2 separate regions of the Homo sapiens genome follow, and region 1 is linked to region 2. A link means that fine-mapping ties the variant in region 2 to the expression of a gene that starts in the linked region. Tissue or cell type: whole blood. Region 2 holds a variant in brackets; the other region holds the start of a gene. All regions are shown on one strand. Distances are from middle to middle.

Region 1 (9,845 bases), 48 kb after region 2:
ACTGATATAAATAATACATGATGGAAGGGGAAGTCTGTACTTCTTCAACAAGGACAGGAGGCATTGTGTCAAGGACTACTCAAAGTGCAAAGATGATTTCACATCTTTTTTTTTTTTTTTTTTTTTTTTGAGACAGGGTCTCGCTCTGTCACCCAGGCTAGAGTACAGTGGTGCAATCTTGGTTTACTGCAACATCTACCTCCCTGGCTCACACGATTCTCCCACCTCAGTCTCCCGAATAGCTGGGATTACAGGCATGTGCCACCACACCTGGATAATTTTTGTATTTTAGCAGAGATGGGGTTTCACCACATTGGCCAGGCTGGCCTCGAACTCCTGACCTCAGATGATCTGCCCACCTCGGCCTCCCAAAGTGCTGGGATTACAGGCATGAGCCATTGTGCCCAGCCCGTTTCACATCTTTCTGGAATGTCAATTTTACTTGACAGGTAAGCAGTTTAAAATGTCATTTTTATTTTGGGTGGTGATTTCATAGATATATATATATATAACTGTCAAAACTCATCTAACATTTAAAATCTGGACATTGAATTGTATCTTTATTATATCTCAATAAATGTCATTTTAAAATTAAAATATGGATACATTCTAGAGTATAATACAAAATCTGCATTTTCTTTTTAGATACACTCTGAGACTTGAAAGAAGTCACCCTCTGAGATGGGTCCCTGATATGGTTTGGTTATGTCCCCACTCAAATCTCATCTTGAATTATAGCTCCCATAATCCCTACATATCATGAGCGGTACCTGGTGGGAGGTAACTGAATCATTGGGGAGGGTTTTTCCCATGCTGTTCTTGTGATAGCAAATAAGTCTCAAGCTGTGATGGTTTTATAAATGGGAGTTTCCCTGCACACACTCTCTTGCCTGTCGCCATGTAAGACGTGCCTTTGCTCCTCCTTCATCTTCCACCATGATTGTGACGTCTCTCCAGCCATGTGGAACTGTGAATCTATTAAACCTCTTTTTCTTTATAAATTACCCAGTTTTGAGTATTTCTTCATAGCAGTATGAAAAGGGACTAACACAGAAAATTGGTAATGCAGAGAGTGGGGCACTACTGTAAAGACAGCCGAAACTGTGGAAATAACTTTGGAACTGGGTAACTGGCAGAAGTTGGAACAGTTTGGAGGGCTCAGAAGAAGATAGGAAAATGTGGGAAAGTCTGGAACTTCCTAGAGACTTGGAGGGCTCAGAAGACAGGAAAATGTGGGAAAGTTTGGAACCTCCTAGAGACTTATTGAATGGCTTTGACCAAAATGCTGATAGTGATATGGACAATAAAATTCAGGCTGAAGTGGTTTCTGATGGAGATGAGGAACTTATTCAGAGTTGGAGTAAAGGTCACTCTTGCTATGCAAAGAGACTAGTGGCATTTTGCCCCTGTCCTAGAGATCTGTGGAACTTTGAACTTGAGAGAGATGATTTAGGGTATCTGGCAGAAGAAATTTCTAAATGGCAAAGTGTTCCAGAGGAAGCAGAGCATACAAATTTGAAAAATCTGCAGACTGACGATGCAGTAGAAAATAAAAACCCATTTTCTAGGGAGAAATTCAAGCTGGCAGCAGAAATTTGCATAGGTAATAAGAAGCTAACTATTAATCACCAAGACAATGGGGAAAATGTCTCCAGGGCATGTCAGAGACCTTCACAACAGGCCCTCCCATCACAGGCCCAGAAACCTAGGAGGAAAAATGGTTTCATGGGTCAGGTCCAGGGTCCCCCTGCTGTTTGCAGCCTAGGGACTTGGTGTCCTGCATCCCAGCCATGCCAGCCATGGCTAAAAAGGGCCAATGTACAGCTCAGGCCTGGCTTCAGACAGTGCAAGCCTGAAGCCTTGGCAGCTTCCACATGGTGTTGAGCCTGCAGGTGCACAGAAGTCAAAAATTGAGGTTTGGGAACCTCTGCCTAGATTTCAGAGGATGTATGGAAATGCCTGGATGTCCAGGCAGAAGCTTGTTGCAGGGGTAGAGCCCTCATAGAGAACCTCTGCTAGGGCAGTGTGGAAGGGAAATGTGGGGTGGGAGCCCCCATACAGAGTCCCTCCTGGGGCACTGCTGGTGGAACTGTGAGAAGAGGGCCACCGTCCTCCAGACCCCAGAATGGTAGATCTACTGACCACTTGCACCATGTGCCTAGAAAAGCTGCACACACTCAATATTAGCCTGTGAAAGCAGCTGGGAGAGGGGGTTGTAGCCTGTAAAACCACAAGGGCAGAGCTGCCCAAGGCTGTGGGAGCCCACCTCTTGCATCAGCATGATCTGGCTGTGAGATACGAAGTCAAAATGATCCAAAGATCATTTTGGAGCTTTAATATTTGACTGCCCTGCCAGATTTTGAACTTGCATGGGGGCTTTAGCCCCTTTGTCTTGACCAATTTCTCCCATTTGGAACGGGTATATTTACCTCACTCCCGTGCACCCATTGTATCTAGGAAGTAACTATCTTGCTTTTATTTATTTATTTTTAAATTTAATTTTATTATTTTTTTTGAGACGGAGTCTCGATCTGTCCCCCAGGCTGGAGTGCAGTGGCCCAATCTCAGCTCACTGCAAGCTCTGCCTCCCGGGTTCACACCATTCTCCTGCCTCAGCCTCCTGAGTAGCTGGGATTACAGGCGCCTGCCACCATGCCCGCCTAATTTTTTGTATTTTTAGTAGAGATAGGGTTTCACCGTGTTGACCAGGATGGTCTCCATCTCTTGACCTCATGATCCGCCCGCCTCGGCCTCCCAAAGTGCTGGGATTACAGGTGTGAGCCACTGCGCCCAGCCACTAGCTTGCTTTTGATTTTACAGGCTCATAGGCGGAAGGGACTTGCCTTGTCTCAGATGAAACTCTGGACTGTGGACTTTCGAGTTAATGCTGAAATGAGTTAAGACTTTGGGGGACTGTTGGGAAGGCATGATTGGTTTTGAAATGTGAGGATATGATATTTGGGAGGGGCCAGGGGCAGAACAGTTTGGCTGTGTCCTCATCCAAATCTCATCTTGAATTATAGCTCCCATAATCCCCACATGTGGTGAGAGGGACCCAGTGGGAAGTAACTGAATCATGGGGAGGGGATTTTTCCCATGCTGTTCTAATGATAGTAAGTCTCATGAGATCTGATGGTTTTATAAAGGGCAGTTCCCCTGCACACGCTCTCTTGCCTGCCACCATGTAAGACATGCCTTTGCTCCTCCTTCACCTTCTGCCATGATTGTGAGGCCTCCGTAGCCATTTGGAACTGTGAGACCATTAAACCTCTTTTTCTTTATAAATTACCCAGTTTTGGGTATTTCTTTATAGCAGTATGAAAATGGACTAACACCGTCCACATATGCAGGGAGGCAACCACTTCACTCTCCTCTGCTTGGGGTGGGGTTGAGGGGTTGAGAAAAAGAGGGGAAGACCTTTTGAAAAGACCCAGGACTACAGTTTGAAAATGTCTGGGTTTAGAAATCGTTTCACTTCCAGTGCTTCTCACTCATTTCACTACCCATGACCCACTCCCCTCTCATCTCTTTACTGTCCACTTATCACTGTTCTTTTTGCTTAAAATGACTCCAAATCCTCAAAAAATTAAAAGTTCCACTGTTTATTACAATTGGAAATTTTATGTTTATTGTCACTGAGCAGAGGGTCTAATGACTCCAAGGCAGTAGTTTCAGATATTGCACATTGCAAACGATTTTCACACAAAAATGTTTTAAAAGGCTATCGGGTGCAGGGCTGGTTGTAGGTAGGGACCCAACCTAAGAATTATGAAACGCCATAGTTCCTAATTTTGGAAAGATATTAGCGGAGAGTAATATGGATTAGTAGCAAGGGCTGGAGAAAACAGTGCTCTATACTACCTTCAAGGTGCTCTTTTCATCGCTTGTGACCCAATGGCTGAATAGTGGGTAGGAAACAGGATTCAGGATCTCAGGCACGGTCTGGATCTACTGACTCTGAGCGTCATTTTATCTCTTGCTGGGGTACACATCTGCTTCTGGATTTAAGTAACGTGCGCTACAATAATTTAAGGACTATAAAACCACAAGGTTATGAGAGCGTAAACCACAAAGCGTGTAAGTAAATGCCTAGAAAACGCAACGCGGTAGCACAGCAGCAACGCACAAACAGCCCCAGCAAACGACGCGCGCCGGGCTTCCCAGCTCCCGGCAGCCTTTGCGCAGCCCTCCCCAAGTCCAACTGGGCGCCCGGGGCGGGGTCTGGACCGCACGCCCTTACCACACCCCCTCCGCGCCGCACCACGCCCCCTCCGTACCTGCTCTTAGCGCGCCTTCCGCCCTGAATATGCGCATGCGCCATTCTCCCTTTACAGCCCCGAAAACGCTCCAGCTGGCCGACTCGGAGACAATGGCGAGAGGCCTCAGAGTTCGGCTTCTTACCTGCTTTGCATAGGCAGCAATCTCCTGCTAGTCCCGCCTCCCTCTGGCATTCTGGCGCGCGAATGGAGGAGCCGAGAAGAGAGCGCAGTTCTGATTGGAGAACGCGCGTGTTTACATTCTCACCTCTCCCGGGAAGTGGACGAATTTAGACCGCCTCTTCCTTCCCGTTGTTTAAGGCAGTTGGTTGCCCTCCTGTCCGTCAGAGGTGCAGTACCAGAGGTGGCGTGCTGCCGATTTCGCGTTTGCCTTGCTGGATGATTCCGCTTGTTTGCCGGCTGCGTGAGTGCTTAGAGCTTTTCGGTGGAAGATGCCGGACAGTAACTTCGCAGAGCGCAGCGAGGAGCAGGTGTCTGGTGCTAAAGTCATCGCTCAGGCCCTGAAAACGCAAGTACGATGGACCTTCCTGGAATGAAAGGCTCCTACGGAAGCTGGCGGGGACCGCGATGTTGTCTTGGAGACGAGTAGAAATGGGCGATGGGGGTCGGGGGGTTTTCCTTTTAGCGCCCGGGAGGGAGGGAAGGATGTGGCGATATGGTGGGGCCTTGGGAGTTTACTCCCCTGTTCTTCGTTCCTCAGGATGTGGAGTACATATTTGGCATCGTAGGCATCCCAGTGACCGAAATCGCCATTGCTGCCCAGCAGCTAGGCATCAAGTACATCGGGATGAGGAATGAGCAAGCGGTGAGTATGGACTCAGGTGGCTGAATGCGTTACTGGGAATGATCAGTAATAGCGGTAGGTATGCATTGCAAACACCCAGATAGCGCTTACCACTCTTCTGCTACTTTACATATATCATATCAATCACTGTTGAATATTAACTGTTGTTACACCAAGTTGACAGATGAGAAAAGACACAGGTTAAGTAAAACTTGCCTTTGGTGACACAGCTGGTAGTAGCAGAGCCAGGGTTTGAACCCACGTATTCTGGGTCTGAGTCCATTCTCTTACTACTATACTGTATGTCATGATTGGAATGGACAGTTTATGAGTAAAGTCTGACTTCCCTATTAGGCTACAAGCTCCATTAGAGCAGGGATATTATTTCTTCACGACACATCTGTACCCCCAGTGCTTAGTGTGGTGCCTGCATAAGAAAGGTGTTCAGAGATTACCTGTGGGATAAATGAGTGAAGGCCAAGGCTTTGTTGTATGATTGGTTCGGGGCAGGGTGGAGGATATCACAAATGGTAGTGCCTTGATGGAAACTCAGATGGCTCAGATCCTAGCCTGATGCTTTTTCCACCACATCATGCTGCCACCTTTCTTAGAGGCTTATTTGGAAGCAGGATAAGGAAGATACGACGTTTTGTCAATCCACTTTAAGTGCATCCTCTGCCAATCCACCTTGCTCTTCTCTCAGTAGTGCGGGCTTGAAAGGTCAAGAATCCACTTCTGTGATATCACATACTCTCAGTCCAGCTGAGGCTAAATATTCCTGCTTTACACTCCCACCGTTGCCTTCTAATTTAAATTCTTGCCTCCTCTTGCCCAAACAACTGCCTGGCCACCCTAAGTGGTGCCTTTTGCCATCATACATGAGTGCCTGGAGGGCAGAAGTTGTGATTCATTTGTTATATCACCACAGTGCCTGGCTTGGTTTGTGCTTTCACGTGGTGTAGATGCTTAATATTATACATTATTTATTAATTGAATGACATTCTTTATTGAATGACATTCTTTATTGAATGACATTCTTTATCTACAAGGTTTGAGATTTGTATTTTTTAATCTTAAAACTAGGAGGTTTTGAGTTTCTGTTGCTTCTACATTTTACTTGTCTTTGTTAGAACAACATTCTGTTCTTTCATCTGTGTGAAAAAATGAAGCTATTGACCTATGAATGGAACCTATACTTAACTGTTTTTGTAGAGATGACATATCTGCCACTGATTTCTTCATACAGCAAACATTTATTGACTAAGTACTGTATACTAAGGATTGTGCTACATAACCTGTAGGAGAGAGGGATGTAAAGAAGGAGTGAGGTTTAGTCTTGATCTTCACGTTGATCAGTCCTGGAAGGTGAGGGTAAGACTTACAGAAAAAGACTCATCTATTATAACTCTCACAATAGATGTAGTAGCACAGAAGGGGTGACTGGTTCTCTTTGAGGACAGAGAAGATTGCCTGTAGAGGTAATGTTAGTTCATGTGGTTCCCTCAAGGTAGGTAAAGGCATGGTGAGCTGTGAGACTGGTAGGTAGGTTGAGGGGAGGTTGTGGGAAATCTAAAAAGAGTTTGAATTTTTTTTTTTTTTTAACAGTAGGCAATGGGGGAGACTAAAGGTTTTTCTAAACAGGTGGGCGATGTAATTAGATTTGTACTTCAGAAAGATGATGCGAGGCATGGTTGTACATGCCAGTAATCCCAGCTACGAAGGGGGCTGAGGCAGGAGGATTACTCAAGTCCAGGAATTAGAGGCTGCCTGGGCAACATAGCACGACCTCTGTCTCTAAGTTTTATTTCAGCCCCTATAAGCTTAGTTGAGGGTTCTTTAGGTCCCATGTGCTGTGTTGGGTGCTGGATACAGAGATGAATGATAGTTCCTGGCTTTAAGGGGCTTACAGCCAAGCTGTGGAGACAGACACAGACAATTGTATTATAAGGTGGTAAGTGCTGTGATAGAGAGATATCCAGGGTGCTATAAAGCCCAGAGAAGGAGTACCCAGGCTCAGCTTCCCACAGGAGATGATGTCTGAGCTGTCCTGAAGGATAAGCAGGCATTAACCAGTTAGGAAAGAGGAGGCAGGCTCCTCTGGAGATGATTCCTAGATTTTGGGCTTACTTGATTGATTGTGTAGATCATATTGTCTGTGACTGAGACTGGGAATATAGAGGGAAGAGCCAGCTTGGAGGAGAAAGGTGATGTTCAATTTTGAACACATGCATTTGAGATGTTGGTGGAACATCCCAGTGCATATGTCCCTCAAGCATCCTGACTCTATGGTAGTCAAAGGAAGACTTAAATGGTACCTGAACTAAGGGTAGTGACAGAATGATTCAGAGGGAACATGAAAACAGGCTAAGGCATTCAGGACATGTTTGTGATAAAGAGAAAGATGTAGTTGGGTGTGACTTCATTGTCTTTGATTAGATCCATAGAGTAATCAAGACATACTGACCAATTGGCCAGCAAGTAGGCAGATTGTCAGCAAGTTCATTGTTCTTGAGAGCTTACTGTGTGTGGGCACTATTTTGAGTGTTTTACACATACGAACTGATTTCATCCTCACAGCAGTGCTTTGAATTATTTTCATTTTATAGATGAAGAAACAGAGATTTAGAGCAACTTGCCAAAATTACACAGTAGAAAGTGGGGAAGCTGGGATTTAAATCAAAACAGATTGGCTCGAGAGTCCACTCTCTAAGTACCATGTACACTGTTCTGCCTGTGAATGGAGGTAGTTTAGTAGAGGAACAGATCTTTTATGGTCATAAAACCAGTTATGGCCAGGCGCGGTGGCTCACGCCTGTAATCCCAGCACTTTGGGAGGCTGAGGCAGGCAGATCACCTGAGGTCAGGAGTTTGAGACCAGCCTGACCAACATGGAGAAACCCCGTTTCTAAAAATATAAAATTAGCCAGGCGTGGTGGTGCATGTTTGTAATGCCAGCTGCTCGGGAAGCTGAGGCAGGAGAATTGCTTGAACCTGGGAGGTGGAGGTTGCCGTGAGCCAATATTGCATCATTGCACTCCAGCCTGGGCAACAAGAGCGAAACTCCGAAACTCTGTCTCAAAAAAAAAAAACAAAACAAAACAAAATAAAACAAAACAAAACAGTTACCTCTCAACTTTTGACATTTCCTACCAGAGGAATATACTTTTTGTTACGTGTTGTTGTATATTTTGCATTGCCTAGCAACATTTCTTACCTAGCTATCATAAGTGGGCAATTCTTTTGGGTGTCTAAATAAAGTGTTCTTATTGCAGCAGGTATTTACATGCCTGCATTTCTTAGGAGTTGTCTTATTCTCCTAATGTGAATTTGGCCTTATGTGCAAAAGGAAAGAGAGATGGGGCCAGTAGAGAATAGCGACACAGGAAAAGAGCAGAGTCTTTGTGCAGGTTCTCAGTGGGTGTATGATAGTAGAGCCAGTTAAGATTATGATCCATAAACATTTCCTTTTTTTTTTTTTCCACATTTATGTCGTTAATGTGGAGTTCTTTAAGACAGTATACTACTTCATTTAAAGCTGAATGAAGGCTAGGAAATACGCAATTCATTATTATTTCTAAAGAAATGAGAAGAAATAATACTGGGAAAAAAATGATGTCCCAGACTAAGAAGAATTTGAGAGAGCACTCAGCATTTTCCCAGGTTATCTTGTGTGCATTTAATTTAGTGCCCCCTCTCTTCCTGATTATGAGCTGAAGTAGAGTTACAAGGTAAAAACTATCCATATGCAGGCCATAAAGGAAATCTCAATAAATCGCCAAGGATTGAAAGCGTGCAGTATATGTCACCTGACCATGTGGAAGTAAAGTGGAACTCAATAAGAGATCACTAAAAAGAATCTCAGACCTTTGGAAATTAAGCAACATACTTTTTGGTATTTTGTAAATATTTGAAAAGATTAACAAAATGAATAAACTTCAAGATAGACTGATTGAGAATAAAAGAGAAAACAGATTACCAATGTCAGGAATGAAAAAGGAGGTATCACTACAGATCCTAATTAACCAATGGGTTGAAGAAGAAATCACAATGGAAAGTAGAAAATATTTTGAATAGAATGATAATGAAAAGATGCAACTCAAACTTGTAACCTATAACTAAAGCAGTTCTTGGAATCATTTTAAACAAATTATTAGTAAAGAAAATTAAAAACCAGTGTTCTAAATTTGTATTTTAAGAAGCTAGAAAAAGAAAAGCAAATCAAATTCAAAATGACTGAAATAATAAATACAAGAACAGAAATCAATGAAATAGAAAACAAACAATAGAGAAAAACCAACAAAAATTTTCGAAGAACTAAAAAAATTTGTTCTTTGAAAAGATGGATAAATTTGATAAACCCCTCATGAGACTGATGAAGAATAAAAGAAAGAAAACAAATTACCAATATTGTTAATAAAAGAGGACATTCCTATTGATCCTGCAGATATTTAAGCAATTGTAAGAGGATGTTTTGAATAACATACATATGAACAAATTTCCTGAAAAACTAAAATTTAGATAACCATTATTTGAAATTTATGTGTAGAACATTTATTACTAAGGTTGGAAATATTTTAATTCTGCCTTTACCACTATGTTCTTGTCTATTATTTAATAGTAAGTTGCTGTCATAAATGTACTATAAGGATCCCAATATGCTCAAGTCCCAGTGTTGTTTTCTCGTAGGCTTGTTATGCTGCCTCCGCGATTGGATATCTGACAAGCAGGTAAACTAAAATTTGTTTCACTTCAATTACTTTAATATTTTGGGGTAGAACTATTAC
Region 2 (10,367 bases):
CATGCCATTGTACTCCAGCTTGGGCAACAAGTGCAAAATTCCATCTAAAAAAAAAAAAAATTAGCCAAGTGTGGTGGCAGATGCCTGTAATCCCAGTTATTCAGGAGGCTGAGGAAGGAGAATCGCTTGAACCCGGGAGGCAGAGGGTGCAGTGAGCCAAGATTGCCACAGAGTGAGACTTCATCTCAAAAACAAAAAAAAGGATGCAGGACTATATTAGAAAATGTTAAGCTTAACATGAATAATTCCAAAGAAATGTTTTGGTTTTTGTCCCTTAAACTGCTATTATAGATTTTTTAATTGTTATTTTTCCCTTAAATAGCTATTTATTACATTCCCCTCAGTGAGTCCTCATGGCTTGGATATGAGGTGTGACTGACTTAGGAGGAGGTGAAGCATCTGAAAACCTGTCATCAGCCAGAAGAATCATTTTAAATGACCATGTTATTCCCCTGCCTAATCCCCTGCAATGCTGTCTGCCCACATAAACCCTAACTCTTCCCCCAGCCTGCAGAGCCTGCAGAACCAGCCAATGCCCTCTCCCCTGACTCCATGCTCCTTCCCTCCCCTTCACTTGCCCCAGTGCCCAATGTTGCCTTACTGGCCTTTTACATTTTTAAACTTGTTAGTTCTTCAAATACTGTTGTAGCCATTTGGAAAAATAAAATCTGCACAAATATCTTTTAGCAATTTGTTTTGGGGGTTGTGTGTGTATTTAAATCCCATGTTTATATGAACACTAGGTGATAATAAGCTCTCGCTAAAGGTAACAGTCTTGGCCGGGCGCAGTGGCTCACGCCTGTAATCCCAACACTTTGGGAGGCCAAAGCAGGCAGATCACTTGAGATTCAGCCTGGCCAATATGGAGAAACCCTGTCTCTATTTTAAAAAATAAATTTTAAAAAACAGTAACAGTCTTATGTGACTTTGCATCCTCCACAATTTCTAGCACAGTATTTTACACGGAACTAATGCTTAACTTTCACACGTGATTTTTTGAGAGTTGCAAGACATCCATAGTCGGATCAACAATTTTTAAAGAATTAGAACACCCCCAAAGTTATACCTTATCTTACAAATCACATTATACATAATTACATCTTTCTTTAATTATCAAAGAATCACTTTAGAACATTAGAGTTCTTCCAGATCACTGAATAGGAATTTCAACCATTACATTCCAGTACTTAGAGAAAATGTAAATATAATTGCCTTTAGTCAAACAAAACAAAAATAATATATTTGGATGATGAACAAGTCACCCAGAAAGGGCTGAAAATTAGCATGACAGGGAGAGAAAACATTTCTGGGTTGGCGACGTTGAAACACTGGCTGTGCATTAGTCCAGGTGTGGGAATTCCAGCCTCGTCCTATGTTGCTGGGATTCTGTTTAGTCTCAGGCAAGGACTTGCCTTCCAGGCCTTAGTTCCTTCTTCTGTAAAATGGACACACTTGCCTGTTTCAGAGGACTGAGGTGATGATTAAGACCCGTGCACCTGCTTTGGTATGCACCGCATTAGACAGTGGGCTCACACTTGATTAGGATCGGAATCACCTGGAGGACTTGTTAAACACAGATTGATGGGCCCTACTCCCAGAGAGTCCGATTAAGTTGATCTGGGGTGGAGCCCAAGAATTTGCATTTCCAACAATTTCCCAGGTGCTACTGGTGCTGCTGCCTGGAGCCCACCTTTCGAGAGCCCCTGGTCTGCACCATACCAGGCTGTTGGATAACTCTGTCTGGGGTGGATTAGACAAAATTCTGCGGGCAGGAGGTTTTCCTGGCCACTGTCAGAATACCTCCTCTAGAACTTCCGATTTCAAAGCAAACAAGTTTGTTCAGCATGGACCCTTCTTTTTGTTGTTCTCCCTCTATCTGAGAACATCTCCCTGTTGCATTTTGCTATTCAAAACCAGAAGAAAAGAGAGTAGATGTAGATGATTTCTGGCTTTGTGTAACCCAACAAATAATAGCCACTAATAGCACTTGATATATATATAGTGGGAGAGATACCTGTATAGGAGCAGTCAGGATAGCTGGGAGATTGAGTGTTGGATGAATTTTAACTTGGATGTGGGAGATTAAGGTGCTGGTAGCAAGACTATTGTATTAGTTTTCTATTGCTGTATAATAAATTACCTCAAAACCTAGGATTTTAAAACAACACACATTTATATTTTATAGTTTCTGAGACTTAGGAAATCAAGAGTGACTTTGTGGGGTGGTTCCGGCTCAGGGTCTCTCATGAGGTTGCAGTCGTTTCCCAGGGCAGTGGTCATCTGGAAGCTTGACTGCAGCTGGAGGACCCACTTCCAACATGGCTCGCTCATGCAGCTAGCTGGTGGCTGTTCCTTGCCAAATGGGTCTGTCCATAGGGATCCTTGGGAGATGGCAACTGGCTTTCCCCAGAGGGAGGGACCCAAGATAGCAAGTGAGCAACCAAGATAGAAGCTGCAGTATCTTTTTTTTTTGGAGACGGAGTGTCGCTCTGTTGCCCAGACTGGAGTGCAGTGGTGCTATCTCAGCTCATTGTAACCTCCGCCTCCCGGGTTCAAGCGATTCTTCTGCCTCAGCCTCCCGACTAGCTGGGACTACAGGCGTGTGCCACCATGCCGGCTAATTTTTGTATTTTCAATAGAGACAGGGTTTCACCATATTGGCCAGACTGGTCTTGAACTCCTAACCTTGTGATCCGCCAGGCTTGGCCTCCCAAAGTGCTGGGATTACAGGCGTAAGCCACCGTGCCCGGTCTGCAGTACCTTTTATAACCCAATTTCAGAAGTAACATGCCATCGCATCTGCCATATTTTATTGGTTACACAAAACGACCCCAGAAAAATGTGGGAAGTGTTGTACAACGGATACCAGCAGGTGGGGAGCACTGGGGGCTAATCTTGAGACTAGCTACCAAGGTTATTTTCATTAAGAAGCTTCTCTCTCCCCTAACTCCTCTATTTCTTCTCAAATGAACTGGTCCATGAGCTTGCAGAATGTTCTGGAAGAACCATGCCAGGGCTGCATTTATCTTCCCTGCATACTCTACCCCTCTCCATTCTGTTCTGTGACCTCCCCAACACTGACTTCTAGATAGCACCAACCAGATTCTCTTATCCTCTGCTTTCCTGTTGGGTCCAGCCAGTGGGAGGCCGCAGCAGGAGTCAGGAGCGGAGAAGAGAGAGGAGACAGGATATGGATCGCCTGGCTCTCTGCCTGTCACACCGCTACGGTCTGGCTGTCTCTCTCACAGCCCCTGCTCCCGCCAGCCTGCTCTCTCCATAAGCTTCCCTCTCCTGCTTCTGGTAACCATTTCAGCCCTTCACACCTTCAGGCCTGGGGTGCTCATAGCTCCTGCTGTCGCTGGCCGCTGGGTAGTGCATTATCCTTTCTGGGTTCCCCTACATCCTGCCCACAGCTGTGTAAATCACTCTGTTCTTAAGATCTCCTCAATCAAGATTTGCAGTCTCCCTCCTGCTATGGCCCTTACGGCAGCAATACCTGACTGGCATCACAGTGAAATTTCTGCTCAGAGGAAAAAAGCCTCGTGGACATTTACTGTTTTGGCCCAACTATATCCCACTCCCCTTCCCCTGGTAACGCTGTCCCAGTGTTCCCCTGGGAAACAGTCCCCACCCCTCAATCCATGAATTTCAGGTCAGAGCTAAGCCTATCATCCCTCACCCTAATAGTGGCCATGTGACTCAGTGCTGGCTGATCAGAATATCACAGCCCTGGCCGGGTACGGTGGCTCACGCCTGTAATCCCAGCACTTTGGGAGGCTGAGGCAGGCAGATCATGAGGTCAGGAGATCGAGGCCATCCTGGCTAACATGGTGAAACCCTGTCTCTATAAAAATACAAAAAATTAGCTGGGCGTGGTGGCACGTGCCTGTAGTCCCAGCTACTCGGAAGGCTGAGGCAGGAGAATCGCTTGAACTCGGGAGGCAGAGCTTGCAGTGAGCCGAGATCATGCCATTGCACTCCTGCCCGGGCGACAGAGCAAGACTCCATCTCAAAAAAACAAAAGAATATCACAGCTCTCTGGCCGATCATTGATTCAGGATGGGCACGTGCCCTAAGCAAGAGCCCAGGTTGTTCATCTCTGAGACTTTAATTAGGGACTGTGTAAAAAGAGGAGCTTCTTCTCTAGAGCTGCTGAGAGGGGCAGATGAAGCCTAGAAGTCATGGCCATTGTTGCAACTACACGAGAGTCTGTCTGTGGGAGAAAATGATAAAGAAGAGTGCAGAGTAGAGTGTGATACTGTGTCCAGAGACACCATTTGAGCCCCTAGATTCAGCAATGGCTGAAGAGAATTTATTCTTAGACTCCCCAGTTACGAGTTAATATATTCTTTTTTTTTTTTGCTCAAACAAAAAGAAAAAGATGAAGAGAATGAGAAGGAAAATGAGAAGAAAAGTTATCTACAAAAAATTATATATGCATGATGCCTAGAGTTCATATATTGGTAATTTCATTTTTAACGGTGCAGCTGTTATTCAGATTTTTGTTTTACTTCAGTACTGAACACAAAAATAAAAAAACTTTCCAAACGGAAATAATGTTTCGTTGTGTTTTTTCTCAGCCTGTCTGAGAAACATTCTAAACATTCTTTGTGACTACCTATTCATTCATTCATTCATTCAGCAGTCAGCAAGCATAGAGCAGATTTTGTAAGCCAAGACAGTGCCATGCTGAACGCTGCAGAGACAAAAGATGAATAGGACACTGGCTCTGGTCTTAGAGGGTGGGTCTCCGTGGAGTCACGATAAAGATGCAAATCCAAGACTCAGCACATATTTGCATGTGGGCAATTCATTAATATCTCTCTGTCAGTTTTCCCCATCTGTAAAATAGCTGTAGCAAACCTTCTTTAGGGCTCATGGCAGTTAAGGGAGACCATTTATGTGCATCCAGCACAGAGCTGTCACTCACTACTAGGTGGCTACTCTAGGCATGGCTCATGTTCCGGCAGAGGGAACTCAGATAAATAGTTCAATGAGAAAGGGCTCTGTGAACTGGGAATGGGAAACACCAGTTCAAAAAGTGGAAGAGTCACAAGCTGTGATGAGAGAGTAGACCTTGAAGGATGGATGAGTGTTCATCAGAAGACGCCATTTCAAGCAGACAACAGTACAGGGGCCAGACTGTGCTCAGCACACTGGAGGAGCTTAAAGAAGTAGCTATGGCTGGACCAGAAACCCAGGTTCACAGTAAGGGCCATCATGTGAGCTCAGAGGTCAGGCGGAGCTGAGGCTGTGCAGAATGTGAACTTTGGCCTGAGGAACAGCAACTGTTGGGAGGTGAGAAACGGGAGAGCTGTGATTTGGATTGAGCAGAGTGGCAGCCCACCTGCAGGATGGTACCCAATGAGGTTCACCTCTGGGCATCTAACACCCTCTGTCTCTTTCCATAGGGAGCAGGGCTGACCTGTGTAACTCAATAAGATGGTGCCAAATGATGCAGTGTGACTTCTGAGACTAGTTAATAAAAGACATCATGGCTCCACCTGTGCTCTCTTGGATCATTTGCTTCAGGGGAAGCCAGGGGCCACATCATGAGGACACTCAGCTATCCCTATGGAAAGACCCAAGTGGTGAGGAGCTGAGACCTTTTGCTAGCAGCCAGCACCAACGTGCCAGCTGTGTGAATGGGCCATTTTGCAAGTGATCCTCTGTATTTGTTTCCTAGGTCTGCCATATCAAAGTACCCTGAACTGGGTGGCTTCAAACAACAGAAACTTATTGTCTCATAGTTGTGGAAGCTGGAAATCCAAAATCAAGGTGTTGGCAGAGCCATGCTTCTTCTGAAACCTGCAGGGGTGGGTTGTGTGTGGGGAGTTGTTTCTTGCCTCTTCTAATTTCTGGTGTTTGTTGGCAAGCAATTTCTGGTGTGCCTTGTCTAGTAGAGGCATCCCTGTGATCTCTGCCCCTGTTGTCACATGGTCATCTTCTCCCTGTGTGTGTGTCTTCTCCTCTTCTGATAAGGACATGTCATATTGGATTAAGGGCCCAGTTACTCTAGTGTGATCTCATTTTAACTTATATCTTCATTGCATCTGCAAAGACCCTATTTCCAAATAAGGCCACATTCTGAGCTATTGGGGGTTAGGACTACAACGTATCTTTTTTGGGGAAGACGCAATTTAATCAATAATATTCTCCAAATCCAGTGAGGCCTTCAACCGGCTGCAGCCTTGGTTGATATCTTCACTGTCACCTCGGCTGACATCTTGACTGTAGCCTCATGAGAGACCCGCTTTCCTGCCCCACAGAACTGGGTGAACTAACAATGTCCATGCTTGTTTTATGCCATTAAGTTTTGGGGCACTTTGTTATGTGGGAATAGGTAACTAACATTCAAAGGGAGGTTAGGGAATGAAAGACTGAAGCCAGGAGACCAGGACCTTTCTCTGGCCTGAGAAGGAACATGGCCTCCCAAGCAGTCCCACTCACAGATCTTCAGGCCACATCAGCTCTTGTCTCAAATCTAGGCCTTTGTGCACAAAACATTTCATACTTTTATGCCTATTTTGTCCTATATAAATCCACTTTGTTGAGAAATTGTTCTTTGAGTGGTCATTTCACTTGAGCGGTTCTGAGTTTCATTGAGAATCAAGAGCGGCCGACTCACCATCGGTCCTCTCTGAGGAGATCTTCTGTGCAGGGACACCTCCTGGGCTACTAGCCAGTGCTCTGATTGGCTGGCCTTGGGCTGGGTGCCTCCTCCTGGTTCAATATACCATGGCTGGGGGGTGGGGGCACAGGTACCAAGCAGGGCCACCTGTGGGGAAAAGTGGCCTGGGTGGGTTTCCCTCAGCAGGGGCTCTGGACAGGCCTGTGTCTTGAGAGCAGACATGGTGGGCTCTGGGACTTGGCAGTCTGTGAGGAGGCCTGGTTTTTTCCTCTCTAAGAACAGGGCTTTTAAATCCAGTGTGAATACAGCTCACTGTGCCTCTCACTTCCCGTGTGAGAAAAACCACAGAAAAGCACAGCTGCACCTACATGAGAAACCACGCAAACCAAGCCACTTCCCCCAAGTCTGGTTTAGCCAAAAATGCATTTGATTTCCTGTCTCCATGTTGTGGTCAAGATTGCCATTTGCTTCCTGAGTTTCAGGATCACAATCGACAAAAACATAATCACAACCATTAGTCATAGATATATTTTTTCCCTGAAAATGATTTATTTTCCCGTCCTCTACTTTGTTCTGTCATCTGGCAGCTACTTCTTTTAATTGTAAAAATTACTTT[G/A]TTCTACCACCATTAGTTGCTTTTCCCCTCATTTCTACTTCACGAGCAATTCATTCTAAATTGTTGGTAGAAAATAACTCAGGGAAAGTTCGTGGTGCTCTGCCCAGAAGGGCAGAATGAGGATCCTGCAGGTGCTGATTAGATGTTTACTGGGTGAAGTAGTTCTGCCAAGTCTGTATTTAGCGCTGGCCTCTCTTTCTCAGGCTTATTTGAATCATCTTGGCATAAGGCAATGATATGCATTTTTAGGTAATTTCTGTCTCCCTGGGGTTTGAGGCAGGGAAGCAGACTGGGCGGTGGGTAGCCACATCTGGGGCCGCTTCTGGACTGCCAGCTCACGCCTGGTGGGAGCTGCGCTGGGCGAGAAAGCGAACTCCGTCATCTGGTGGGAGAGGTCCTGCTCCCCTTCCAGAGGGACTTCCTAGGGCGTGGGGAACCCAAGGCTTGCTCAGGAATTCCAAGTCCTTGCTGCTTATTCCCTGAAGACTTGACTCATCCCAGACCTTTCCGAGGGATCAGTGAGTCAGCAGGGGCTGGTGCTGGCTCTGCTTTTTCCCACATGGTTTATTCAACATGCATTCTATGAATAAAAAACCGAGGCCCAAGGTCTCCCCAGTGAGGAGTTAATGGTGAGGCCATGCATGGAAACCCCATCAGTCTGACTGCAGAATCCACATTGTTAATTGTCCTGCCTAAAAGCCAGAAAAGGATCTGGAGGCCTACACCGTGGGGGAATAGGGAGATCATTTCATTTTTCTTGCTTTATAAAATCGTGTGATGTTTAAGCATATACTGTTTAAAATAACTAAAAAGGAGTTCAAACTAAATGGCCACATTTAAGAGGCAAATCACTGAAGACTAATTATCCATTCTGTACTTAAAAAATGATCTGAAACAGCTACTAGGCATGCAGTCAAAATCCTTTTTTAAATGGCTTTGAAATATTGGACACAAATTACACAGAAATCAGTGGCCTAAAAATGTCTTCACCATATTGAGTCTGATAATTTTGCATCTGGAATTCCTAACATGGGAAGCTCCTGCTCTGTGCCTGTTGGGTGATTGAATAAATGCATGACTAAAGTGGGCCACCCTTCATGCCCTTCACGGCAGTCCCTGCAACTTATCTCTATGGGGTGCCAGGCATCGCTGCAAAGCAACGAGATCCTCTATAGGGCTCCAGATCAAATTATACCAGCATCAATCCATCCTGCACAGTCGGGCAACGTGCCCAACTCTTGCCCAAAGCTACCGTGATTTATTAAGGTCCCTGGAATCCCTGGATGAGCTGTGTCGTACAGAAAGAATTCTATTACTCATACCTTCCCATGGCTGCCCCCGTCTCAACATTTCCAGTCCCCACCCGCCCTTCACCCCGAAGCGTTGCACTCTCTCCAGTTATTCCAGGTCCTGCCTACACATTCCATTTACTGACAGAAAATTCCATTACTGGCAGATGTGAGGAACGCTTCTTTTCTATTTTTAAAAGCCGCTTTAAGGTCTACGTTTCTGACGTTGCTGGTGGCGCTAGCATTGCCATTTCATCTGGCTAGAGTTCTGGTCGACCAGAATGGGAAGGTTCCCCACAAGGGCCATTTCTAATTGAGCTTTTGCTTTGAGAGCTTGTTTCTTACCTCAGGAAATGTTTAAGGCTTATGAAATATTTACATGTCCTGGGTGTCACTTGATCAACAAGATAAAAAAAAAAAAAAAAACCCCAAGCCACTGCTTTGTGGATGTGTAAAATATAAACTGACATTTATTTTTGTTTTAGCTTGAGACCAATCGCATACTGAGAGATTTGTTAGAGGAAGATGTGGCTTGAAAAAGATAAATGTGAACAGAAAATACCCCCTAATGTCTCGATGATTGAGGTTTAAGAGGAAGACACTGAGGGAATCTGCCTCTCCTACTTTTTCCACAGTTCCCAGGGTGGAATCTGGTGCCACAGAAGTGGGCTCCTGCCCTTAAGGCAGAAAGATGGTCCCAGGGCTTGTAGCCTGTGGAAGTGCAAGGCTGTCAACATGATGGCCAGAGTCCGCCCCACAGACCACACACTTTTCCTAGTCCCTCTCATACAAGCGCCCATAGAGAGCCGCCGTCACCAGCCCAGAGGACAGCCTACTTTTCCTCAGGAAATAGTGGTCATTCTCCCAGCCAAGCTGGTCAGGGACTTCTAGGGTCATCCCTGAGGTCAGAAACAAAGGAAAGATATAGGAAGTACTGAAGTTGCCCCACAGGTGAAACTCAAATATCCCCGTGGCCTCTGTGATTTCCTGTCCACAGGTGTCGAAGCCAAGACCCCCACACCTGACCAGGGCACACACTTGGATGTAGTAAGTGCCATGTACTGTGTGAAGCCCATCAAAGACCCCCAGGGCATACAGCTCTTTGGATAAGGTGGGCCTCTCGTAAAGTAAATAACAGCAGAGGCCATTGGAACAGACGTGGAGATAGCCTTCCTTTCCCCAGACAGGGACCAGGGTGAAATTGTCATACATCATCTCAGAGTGAAATGTGGGAGGAGCATTCACGTTCCACTTGGTGGCCTCATCACAGTGGACTTCCTGAGCATCCTTCTCACAGTACGGATCGCCTGACAAAATTTTTAAAAACTTACTATGGGATGGGTCCGTTTCACCTGTTGCATTCTCTGCACCAATGAGACCCACTGGATTTTTGGCCACCTGGGCAATTATAAGGTGACTTTTGGGATTTTCCATGTCATGGTACCAAAAGGACTCCAGAGGGGTGTGTATGCCACTTCCTGTCATCCCCAGAACTGGGTGGTGGACATTAGCTGCCAGAACGTTGATGCCAAAGGCAACAGCAAAAGCTTTCTGAATCTCAATTGCTGCCAAGAGTGGGAGCTGGTTCATCCAGGCAGTTGGGTACACAACATGCTTCACCTTGTAGTCTCTGAGGACTCTGATGGCAGGGTCAAAGAACAATATATCAAAGCATGTGAAGATGCCAAACCTGCCAGCAAAGGGGGTATCAAAGGTGATGAGATCCACTTTAAGAGGAACATCGAATGCTGCCTCAAAGTAGAGGTTGTGTTTACGGTAGCGGTCAACAAGGGTTCCATTATTGCTGAACACGACATTTGTGTTGAACTGG

The links. PIP is the estimated chance that this variant, and not a neighbour inherited with it, causes the effect.
Region 1: BTD starts here. The variant in region 2 is fine-mapped to the expression of BTD in whole blood (TOPMed, PIP above 0.99). The same link has a PIP of 0.9 or more in blood mononuclear cells.

The regions. Positions count from the first base shown.
Region 1 is chr3:15,596,327-15,606,171 of GRCh38, reverse strand. BTD (biotinidase) reads right to left here and starts at 4,427. Exons shown (of 4, transcript NM_001370658.1): 1 at 4,278-4,427. HACL1 (2-hydroxyacyl-CoA lyase 1) reads left to right here and starts at 4,603. Exons shown (of 17, transcript NM_012260.4): 1 at 4,603-4,789; 2 at 4,978-5,082; 3 at 9,748-9,788. The coding sequence starts at 4,709. RefSeq lists a silencer at 4,155-4,214 and an enhancer at 4,056-4,698.
Region 2 is chr3:15,644,432-15,654,798 of GRCh38, reverse strand. It overlaps BTD (biotinidase), which reads right to left. Exons shown (of 4, transcript NM_001370658.1): 4 at 1,085-10,367. The coding sequence ends at 9,311. Among named protein-coding and RNA genes, the nearest start is that of MIR3134, 48 kb to the left of the region's middle. RefSeq lists a silencer at 6,863-7,157 and an enhancer at 7,584-8,117. The variant G/A (reference allele first, on the strand shown) is at 7,248.